Homo sapiens: one gene and its partners. The protein of the gene in region 2 purifies or fractionates together with the protein of the main gene of each other region. This does not show direct contact. Each region holds a gene or a part of one and is shown on either strand. Other genes may lie near its edges. The genes, in order: HAVCR2, SH2D2A and PEAK1.

The links.
Region 1: the proteins of SH2D2A (region 2) and HAVCR2 purify together in Homo sapiens (co-immunoprecipitation; one study listed by IntAct). This does not show direct contact.
Region 3: the proteins of SH2D2A (region 2) and PEAK1 purify together in Homo sapiens (affinity purification with mass spectrometry; 3 studies listed by BioGRID and IntAct, with this or other methods). This does not show direct contact.

The regions. Positions count from the first base shown.
Region 1 is NC_000005.10:157,095,418-157,099,143, reverse strand, and holds part of HAVCR2 (hepatitis A virus cellular receptor 2 precursor), read left to right. Parts: intron 1-242; coding exon 243-286; intron 287-3,684; coding exon 3,685-3,726. UniProt on the Homo sapiens protein: Cell surface receptor implicated in modulating innate and adaptive immune responses. Generally accepted to have an inhibiting function.
Region 2 is NC_000001.11:156,810,349-156,813,848, reverse strand, and holds part of SH2D2A (SH2 domain-containing protein 2A), read left to right. Parts: coding exon 1-1; intron 2-3,500. UniProt on the Homo sapiens protein: Could be a T-cell-specific adapter protein involved in the control of T-cell activation. May play a role in the CD4-p56-LCK-dependent signal transduction pathway. Could also play an important role in normal and pathological angiogenesis.
Region 3 is NC_000015.10:77,129,982-77,133,707, reverse strand, and holds part of PEAK1 (inactive tyrosine-protein kinase PEAK1), read left to right. Parts: coding exon 1-703; intron 704-3,726. UniProt on the Homo sapiens protein: Probable catalytically inactive kinase. Scaffolding protein that regulates the cytoskeleton to control cell spreading and migration by modulating focal adhesion dynamics. Acts as a scaffold for mediating EGFR signaling.

The DNA of each region.
Region 1 (3,726 bases), on a different chromosome or scaffold from region 2:
CATAAAACAGTACGGTTCATTATCTAGATGAAAAAATGTGGCCATCCTAAAGTTGATTCCTGGGTGTTCAGTAAATTTTGTCTGTCTCTCCATTAATTATTGTGACAAGTACGGAGTAGAATTCATTTCAAATAGGATTATAGGCATCATTAAGATTTTTTAAAAACTTAGATAAAAGAAAACGTTCTTAACTATACTATTGGCTATTTTTCCTCTCTCTCTCTCTCTCTCTCTTTTTATAGCAGAGACACAGACACTGGGGAGCCTCCCTGATATAAATCTAACAGTAAGTAACTTTTTTTGTGAGCTATGTTGTACTCAACTTGGAGGGGAAATCATGGCTTTAGACTTCCTTCATGCCCACCTTGTCCTTGGGGTAAAAAGCCTTAAGTTCCCTTAGCTTCAGATTCCTGGGCTGTAACATGTTGATGATGACAGTTCTAACCTCATAGGCCTGCTGTAATGAAGGACTGACATGATGTGTGTAAAGTGCCTGGCATATAGTAAGAGCTTGAAAACCACAAAGAAGAAACATTAGCATTTTGTCCCTCTTATTCTTCAATTTCACAACTGTCTACCCTGTGGAAGGTTCAAAGATTCTTCATCTCCCTAGAATACCATTCTTCTTGCTTCCATTGCAATCCTAATGGGAAAGAGTATTTAAATTTATCTCTTTAAATATGGCAAGACACCAGTCAGGAATATTCAAAGTGAAGAGGTTTTTTTTTTTTTTTTTTAGACAGAATTTCGCTCTTGTTGCCCAGGCTGGAGTGCAAGGGTGTGATCCTGGCTCACCTCAACCTCCGCCTCCCGGGTTCAAGCGATTCTCCTGCCTCAGCCTTCCGAGTAGCTGGGATTACAGGCATGAGCCACCACACCCGGCTAATTTTTTTATTTTTAGTAGAGACGGAGTTTCACCACATTGGCCAGGCTGATCTTGAACTCCTGACCTCAGGTGATCCACCTGCCTCGGCCTCCCAAAGTGCTGAGATTGCAGGCGTGAGCCATGGCACCTGGCCTAATTTTGTATTTTTAGTAGAGACAGGGTTTCTCCATGTTGGTCAGGCTGGTCTTGAACTCCTGACCTCAGGTGATCCGCCCAACTTGGCCTCCCAAAGTGCTGGGATTACAGGCATGAGCCATGGTGCCCAGCCAGTTTTATGTATTTAACTATAAATAAAGCCATACCTTAATAAACCTCAATTTTACTGTCCCTGCTACCTTCTCAGAATAAAAGAAAAACTGGCTGGGCGCAGTGACTCACGTCTGTAATCCCAGCACTTTGGGAGGCTAAGTAGGGTGGATCACCTGTCAGGGGTTTGAGACCAGCCTGGTCAACATGGTGAAACCCCATCTCTACTAAAAATACAAAAAATTAGCCAGGTATGGTGGTGTGTGCCTGTGTAGTCTCAGCTACTCAGGAGGCTGAGACAGGAGAATCGCTTGAATCCAGGAGGTGGAGGTTGCAGTGAGCTGAGGTCGCGCCACTGCACACCAGCCTGGGCAACAAGAGCGAAATTCCCTCATAAAAGAAAAACCACTAGAAGGCAAGCTTGCAGCAATGACTTAAAAATTCTTTGAGGAGGCCGGGCACAGTGTCTCATGCCTGTAATCCCAGCACTTTAGGAGGCCAAGGTGGAAGGAATGCTTGAGACCAGGAGTTTGAGACTAGCCTGGGCCACATAGTGACACCCTGTCTCTACAAAAAATATTTTTTAAAATTTGGCCAGGCATGGTGCTGCAAACCTGTAGTTCCAGCTACTTGGGAGGCTGAGGCAGGAGGATCACTTGAGCCCAGTAGGTTGAGGCTGCATTGAGCTGTGATCATGCCCCTGCACTCCATCCTAGGTGACAGGGCAAGGCCTTGTCTCAAAAAAAAAAAAAAAAAAAAAATTACTTGAGGGCATATCCAGGAGCCCACATTTATTTGACTCAGTTTCTTGCTTGTGTATTCACAACTGATGCTCAGCATCTTGTATTTGCTCCTTCTCTCTTTGCAATCAAACAGTGCTTTTTAAGGACCTGTATGTGCCCACAATGCTTAATGCACAATATCTTGCATATAGGACTCCTGTTATTGCAGGAGTAATGTGTATTGAATCAATTTGTAAATGTATATTGAATAAATGGAAGATTTAACTTCCTTAAATTCATTGTTTTAAAAATGCTTATAATTATATGTGTGTGTGTGTGTGTGTGTGTGTGTGTGTGTGTGTTTTGTATAAATGGGGTCTCAATATTATTAGGCTGGTCCCTAACTCCTGGTCTCAAGTGATCCTCCCATCTCAGCTTCCCAAAGTGCTGGGATTATAGGTGTGAGCCTGGCCTATAATTATTATTTATTTATTAATTTATTATTTATTTTTGAGATGGAGTTTTGCTCTTGTCGCCCAGGCTGGAGTACAATGGCACAACCTTGGCTCACTGCAACCTCTGCCTCCTGGGTTCAAGCGATTGTCCTGCCTCAGCCTCCCAAATAGCTGGGACTATAGGTGCCCGCCACCACACCTGGCTAATTTTTGTATTTTTAGTAGAGATGGGGTTTCACCATGTTGGCCAGGCTGGTCTTGAACTCCTGACCTCGTGATCTGCCTGCCTTGGCCTCCCAAAGTGCTGGGACTACAGGCGTGAGCCACCGCACCTGGCCTAATCATTGTTTTTAAAGAGAGAAAAAGAGAGAACCCATAGACTGAAATTTTAGAAACAGGATTTATTTTGTGTGGCTCTCAGTTATCAGAAAATCAAGTTAACTAGAGCAATAGCAATAATAGCTACGATTGATTGAACATTTATTATGTACCAGGCCCTGTACTAAGCATTTTATATTTTCTCTCACTTAGTTTTCCTGATAACTCTACAGGATTACTCAGCCCTTAGTGGCAGAGCTGGGAATTTTTTTTTTTTTTTTTTTTTTGAGATGGAGTCTCGCTCTGTTGCCCAGGTTGGCGTGCAGTGGCATGATCTCAACTCGAGTACTCCAGTCTTTGCCTCCTGGGTTTAAGTGATTCTCCTGCCTCAGCCTCCCCACTAGCTAGGATTACAGGCATGTGTTACCACGCCTGGCTAAGTTTTGTATTTTTAGTAGAGACGGGGTTTCACCATGTTGTCCAGGCTGGTCTCAAACTCCTGATGTCAGGTGATCCGCCTGCCTAGGCCTCCCAAAGTGCTGGGATTACAGGCATTAGCCACCGCGCCCGGCCTCAGAGCTGGGATTTGAATCCACGACCGTCTGGCTGTAAAGTCTTGGCTATTGAATCACTGTCTTTTTGTGAAAAATAGACGTTTCATAGCAAGACACTAAATGTAAACTACTCTAAAACTCTCTGGGGAATCTTAGGGGATCTTGAACCAACAAGACTCCACTCTAAAGCCAATTTTTGCAGGGGCAGGGAAAGGGTCTTAAGAGCTCCTTCTCTCTTTTTTTTTTTTTTTTTTTAAGAGCTCCTTCTCTACCCACAACACAGAAGGGCACATTTTGTTTCCTTGCTAACTCCAAAGGTTAAGGGAGACCCTTTCTTGGGTTGGCTTGAGTGTTGGCTACAAGGTGACAGATCAAAGGTGATTTGAAGGACTCAGCCATCCTGTGATGTTGTAAAAGGGATGGTCCAATTCACAAATCTTGAAGCTGATTACACAAGCGATTTCTAGCTGTTTTCTGCTTAAATCCTGTTTGTGTTTCCATAGCAAATATCCACATTGGCCAATGAGTTACGGGACTCTAGATTG
Region 2 (3,500 bases):
GGTACGCGCCCCAGACCCTGACCAGAGAGCCCAGGGTCTCGGGCCAGCGCCCCTCCCGCTCAGAGCCCAGGCGCAGGACGCGGCACCAGGCACTTTCTCATCCCGAAACACCACTCGGGCATGCCTCCCTTACCCAGGCATCTTCATCTTCATGGGAGGGTGGCAGGCCCTTCGAGAAATATGAGTGCTGGGGGACCGTCCTTAAGAGACCAGCCCAGCCACACGGAGTCAGAGGGGCAAGGAGAGGCCAGGGGCACACAGAGTCATTTGGGGTTTTGTTTTTTGTTTTCTTTTGCTTTGTTTTAGACAGAGTCTCGCTCTGTCGCGCAGGCTGGAGTGCAGTGGCGCGATCTTCTCTCCCTGCAAACTCCACCTCCCGGGTTCAAGTGATTCTCCTGCCTCAGCCTCCTGAGTCAGCTTCCCCCCTCTAGGCCCCATTATCCTCCTATCCCTAAGGCCTCGAATGCTGGTATTTTCCACCTGGTATTTTCAGCTTTGACTTCTGAAATCTGGAAGTCCAACTACTTACTTTCCCATCCCTGTTGCTGCAGTAGCAGCCCCTGCAGGCTGCCCTTCCAGGATGAGGCCAGGGGAGGATGCGGGGGTCTCCTGAATGGGACCCCTGAGTAGCTGGGATTACAGGCGTGAGCCACTGCGCCCAGCCTAGTCATTTGTTTTTTAATGTAAGAGATACTTACGGAGTACTTAGGGCCTACCAACTGCTGGCAGGCCCTGAGAACAGACCCATGAACAAGACAGACAGATGGATCTCAAACTCACAAAGCCTACTTTCCAGCAGCAAAAACAGACAAGTAATAGAAATCCAGGGTGGAGACTGTGATTCAAGAAGAAATACAGGGTACCATTTAGCCTAGCAGGCAGCGGTGCACAAGTTCAGGCAGTGCTGAGGGACCACTGTGTGCCACGCAACTTTCTGCGCACTGGAAAAACAGGAGTGAATGTAAATGACCTGAATATCTCTGCCTTCAAGAGCTTCCATTCTAGAAGGAGGAGACAGACGAGTGAGTAATATGGATAACAAGCAAAGAAGACAGAGTCTGTCTAGTAATGATGAGTACACACTGACAAGAAAACCAAAGAGCTCCACCAGCAGCTCCACCTTCCAAGCAGACCCAGCCTCCACCCTCCTCATGCCTCCTGGAGGCACCTGCCTCTGCTACACTGGCCCAGGCTGCCATCATTTCATGTGAAATATTGTTGAAGAGTGACAGGATTGGGGCTGTTCTACACAGGGTGTCAGGGAAGGCCACTCGGGTAAGCGGACATCTGAATAGAGGCCTGTATGAAATAGGAGAAGAGCCATGCAGACAACTGGAGGAAAAGCATTCTCGGCAGCAGGCACAGCAGGTGCAAAGGCCCTGAGGCAGGAGGAGACTTGGTGTGTCTGAGGAATGATGGGAGCAGAGAGGAAGTTAGCATGGGTGGATCCGGTGACTGAGGGATAGAGAGGTAGGAGATGAGATCAGAGGGGTGAGGGAGGGGGGCCCTGTAGACTCTTGTATGCATTTGAAGTTTTATTCTGAGCGAGACGAGGTGGCACTGGAGACTTACAAGCTGAGGGGTGACATGGCCTGGCAAGTTTCGGGAGGAGCAATATTTCACATGAAATGATGGCAGCCTGGGTCAGGGTAGCAGAGGTGGGTGCCTCCAGGAGGCATGAGGAGGGTGGAAGTCTCCTCAGAAGGTGGAGCTGCTGGGTTTTTGTGGGATTGGATGAGGAGTGTGAAAAGATGGACTTGTCATTGACTGAGTTGAGAAAAGTTCTAGGAGGAACACATCCAGGCAGGAGGCAGGTGATCAGGAGTTCTGTTTTCTACACGTGCAGTTCAGCATGGAGATGTCAAGTAGGCAGCTGGAATTCAGAGTCTGGGGACTGGGACAAAGGGATGGGCTGCAGACAAATATTGAGAGTCACCAGCACTTAGATGGACTCTAAAACCTTTAGGAGGGGAGAAATCTCACTCGGAAGTCAGTGTAGGTGGGAAGGAAATGAAGCCCAGGTCTCCAGCATTTAGAGTTTGCAGAAATGAGGGGGAACTGACAAAGAAAACAGAGCAGAGCGCTCAGAAAGAGGAGAAAAGCCAGAAGAGTGTGATGCTCTGGAAGCCAAGCGAAGAAAGTGAGTGAAGGCGGGTGAGGGCAGAGGGTGGAATTGATACTAGGTTTGACAGAGAGGAGGTCATTGGTGACCTAGACAAGAAGAGTTTCACAGAACTTGATTTGGGTCAGTTAAAACAAGTGGGGACAGTGCCTGTGGTCACTGCCTTTTCTGTGAGGAACAGGCAGAGACCTGAGATTCACAGGGCGTAGGGAAGTCTGGGGGTGAGGAGGAGCCAGCCTGACCTGAGAAGCCTGAAGGCAGAGCTGTAGAAGTCTGAGATCACACAGAGTCTTGTCACTCAAGCTCTCAGGAGTCTGACTTATTCTGGGGCAATGGGCTGCCACCCAAGGATTGCTAGGGGAGTTTCTGTAAGATTGCTCTGCTCGAAGACTGGAGAGTGGATTGGAAGGGCAAGACGATGCAGGGGGAGGAGTCAGGAGGCCTGAACTAGGGTGCTGGCCATGTGCATGGAGAAAAGTACTCAGATGTGAACGATATTTAGACAGTGGAAGGAGCAGGACTTGTGTTTGATTTCATGTCAAGAGGGAGGAGGTGGAGGCATCAAGGATGACTCCTAAGGTGCTGTTTCGGCAGCAGGGTGGAGGTGCTACTTTTTATTCCGGAAGGAGATGCTGAGAGAGGAGGGGGTTAGGGCAGGAAAAAGAATTCTTTGATTTCCACAGTATATCTGCAGTACACCTCCCGATGGAGACATGCACTTGGTGGATTGCAGGAGCACAAGAAAAGCCCTGTGACCTTAGCCTACAGTGGCAGCAGGCATGGGGACAGCATTCATGGACCAAGGGCTAACACGGAGCTAAAAGCAGACCCTCTGTGAGACGGAACCATCCCACATGGGGCTCCTCTCTCCTGAGGTGGTCTCTGCCCTTAAAAATGTTAGCTTATGGCCGGGCGCAGTGGCTCACACCTGTAATCCCAGCACTTTGGGAGGCCAAAGTGGCGGATCACCTGAGATCAGGATTTCGAGACCAGCCTGGCCAACGTGGCAAAACTCCATCTCTACTAAAAAATACAAACATTAGCTGGGTGTGGTGGTGGGCGCCTGTAATCTTAGCTACTTGGGAGGCTGAGGCAGGAGAATGTCTTGAACCCAGGAGGCGGAGGTTGCAGTGAGCCGAGATTGCGCCACTGCACTCCAGCCTGGATGACAGAATGAGACTTGGTCTCAAAAAAAAAAAAATAGCTTATATTTCCATAAAGTAACCGGCAGTACAGAAATAAACACAAGCACAGCTGTCATGGAGATTGGTCCCCATGTCAATAATTTTTCAGTTAAAGACGTGTAAAGCCATGTTGCATTTTCAGAACCACAGGCACAAATGGAATCTGGCCTGGCCCTGTGTTCCAGAAGAAATTA
Region 3 (3,726 bases), on a different chromosome or scaffold from region 2:
GCCCAAGGGAGCTGTGGACGATGCCATCGCCTTTGGAGGGAAAACAGACCAAGAAGCACCCAATGCTTCCCAACCTACACCACCCCCACTGCCAAAGAAGATGATCATAAGAGCCAATACAGAGCCAATCTCCAAGGACCTCCAAAAATCCATGGAAAGTAGTCTTTGTGTCATGGCTAATCCCACCTATGATATCGACCCCAACTGGGATGCCAGCAGTGCTGGTTCTTCCATCAGCTATGAACTCAAAGGACTGGACATTGAGTCTTATGACTCCTTGGAAAGGCCTTTGCGCAAGGAGAGACCTGTCCCCTCAGCAGCAAACAGCATTTCCAGCTTAACCACTCTCAGTATTAAGGATAGATTTTCCAACAGCATGGAATCCCTCTCCAGCCGGCGTGGGCCCTCTTGCAGACAGGGCCGAGGCATCCAGAAGCCGCAGAGACAAGCACTTTATCGAGGACTTGAGAATCGGGAGGAAGTAGTGGGTAAAATCCGAAGCCTTCATACAGATGCCTTGAAGAAACTGGCTGTTAAATGCGAAGACCTTTTCATGGCTGGGCAGAAAGACCAGCTCCGTTTTGGAGTGGACAGCTGGTCAGACTTCAGGCTAACCAGTGACAAACCATGTTGTGAGGCAGGTGATGCGGTTTACTATACTGCTTCATATGCAAAAGATCCACTTAATAACTATGCAGTCAAGGTAAGAAAATATTATAAATCTCATGTTAAGTCTTAACCACTACATTGTTACTGGGATGGATTCATTCTGCTTTTCTCCTTTCTTTCCTTCATTCTTCCATTCAGCAAATTATTGAGCATCTACCTCTTACCAGATACTAGATTAAGCAGGGGGCTTATTTATTATTTAAAGAAAACAGATACGTAACTTAACAGAATTACAACAGTATACTGCATGCAAAGATAGAGGTAAACAAGAATTCTATGGGATCTTGGAGATACCTTAACCCAAACTCAAGAAGTCAAAGAAGTCTTTTTTTTTTTTTTTTTTGAGATGGAGTTTCACTCTTGTTGCCCATTGTGGAATGCAATGGTGCAATCTCGGCTCACTGCAACCTCCGCCTCCCAGGTTCAAGCAATTATTGTGCCTCAGCCTCCCGAGTAGCTGGGATTACAGGTACCTGCCACCACGCCCCGCTAATTTTTATATTTTTAGTGGAGATGGGGTTTCACCATGTTGGCCAGGCTGGTCTCAAACTCCTGATCTCAGGTGATCCTCCCGCCTTGGCCTCCCAAAGTGCTGGGATTACAGGTGTGAGCCACCATGCCCAGCCAAAGAAGTCCTTTTAAAGTAGGTAACCTGGCCAGGCATGGTGGTTCATGGCTATAATCCCAGCACTTTGGGAGCCCAAACCAGGTGGATAGCTTGAGCCCAGGAGTTCGAGACCAGCCTAGGCAACGTGGTGAAACCCTGTCTCTAAAAAAAAAAATAGAAAAAATTAGCCAAATGTAGTGGCTCATGCCTGTAGTCCCAGCCACCCAGGAGGCTGAGGTGGGAGGATCACCTGAGCCCAGGAGGTCAGGGCTGAAGTGAGCCATGATCGGGTCACTGCACTCCAGCCTGGGCAACAAAGTGAGACCCTGTCTCAAAAAAAAAAGTAGGTAACCCTTGAGCTTTGCTTTTTGCAAGGGCTACCTAAAAATATGAGGTCTGTTATGTACCTTTCACTGCATGTTTCTGTCTTTTTTTTAGGCTGGAGTGCAGTGGCATGATCATAGCTCACTGCAGCCTCAGGTGTGTGCCACCACATGACTGATTTTTTTGGTTTTGGTAGAGGTGGTGGTCTCACTATGTTGCCCAGGCTGGTCTCAAACTCCTGGCTTCCAGTGATCCTCCCACCTTGGCCTCCCAAAGTGCTGGGATTACAGGCATGAGCCATCATACCTGGTTTATGTTTCTGACTTTACCCTTTACCAGCTAAGAAATGCTTGTCTACCTCTGCTCTGTAACTCCTTTGCTCCCTAGAGAAACATTTTTATAGAGGAGGATAACTAATGTTTATTGATGTTCCTGGAACTATATTTTTGTTATGTAATTTAATCTTCACATCAACTTTATGAGATTAAGATCTTTTTCTCCATTTGACATATGAGGAAAATGAAGCTCCAAGAAGTAGGCTGACTTGGTTAGGATCACACAGCTAGCAAGTGGTAGAGCTGAGTTTTTTGTTGTTGTTTTTGTTTTGTTTTGTTTTGAGATGGAGTCTCACTCTGTTGCCAGGCTGGAGTGCAGTGGCACGATCTTGGCTCACAGCAACCTCTGCCTCCCGGGTTCAAGCGATTCTCCTGCCTCAGCCTCCCTTGTAGCTGGGACTATAGGTGTGCACCACCATGCCCAGCTAATTTTTGTATTTTTAGTAGACACGGGGTTTCACCGTGTTGGCCAGATGGTCTCAATCTCTTGACCTCGTGATCCGCCCACCTTGGCCTCCCAAAGTGCTGGGATTACAGGCGTGAGCCACCATGCCTGGCCAGAGCTGAGTTTTAATCACAAATATTTCTGACTCCATAGCTGTATTTTGTCCATTGTGCCACTTATCAATTTCTTACATGTGGATTGCTTATTTCAGATAACCCACTTCTTCAAGACAGCTAAACTCTTGACATCAAGAATTCTTGCCCAGTTACATTCACTGTAGCAGAAAGCCATAGGTTTCATCAATATAATAAATAAAGTGTGGACTTTGAAGTCCAAAAGATTTGGGTTCAGATCCTGGTTCTGCCTCTTAGTAGCTTTGTCAATAATGGCACCCATCTTATGGAGCTGTTGTTTGGTTAAAAGAAAACAAAATGTCCCTAATAACTGTTCATTTCATTAACTAGCCACTAGCTTCTTCCCTAGGTTACTTTAAGAGAGTAACAATCTTTGAGCCTCAATTTCCTCCTCTTTCAGATGTTTACAGTGAGTGTAGGATCAAGTGAGATAATGCATATGAAAGGTTTTTGAAGAACACAAAGCCCTATATGTAAACTTAAGGTAGTGTCCTCCATTCCCATAGTCCCTTTTTACTGATTCTATTCACTGGTTCAAAACCAATTAACATATCTAAATGACTTTTACATGTTAATTAGGCTTAGAAAGACCAGATGGTATCTTAGCAAATTAATGGATAAGGTAACGATTGGCCTTACCTGTCTATCAAGACAGAATGTATGTTTGAAACAGACCTTCAGCTAGCTACCCTCTGCAGTTACAGTATCTACACCAGTTGACTGTCTGATGTCACTGGCAGAGTAACCCTGTGCTCCAGCTCACACTTTTTAAATTAAACTGAGGGATAAACTGTAAAGAGGGGGATCTGGATTCAAGTTAATACATTACTATTGAGTTTAAAAAGGTATTTTGAGATTCTATATAGCACTTAAGAGCTGTTATATAAATTGAGGTTATGGTGCCTTATCTATCTTGGGCCCTTATTGCTGCAAAATCACCAATGCAGGATGAGTACCTGTTTCAGAAAGGGACATTGAACTATCTGTTCTTTCAAAACAGTTGAGAAGTAGGACTTGACTAACTTTATGTATTATTGCCGTGGAATCTTGTCTCTTTCCCAAATCAGTGGTCTGGTATTGATTTCTTTGCTTATAATGATGTAAAACCAATCTCCAAAGAACAGATGGCAAGTGGTTATATACTAGGAGTTGTTGGCAGGTTTGGAAAAGGATATTTTACACTAAATGCTAAATATAAATGTCTCTTTTAAG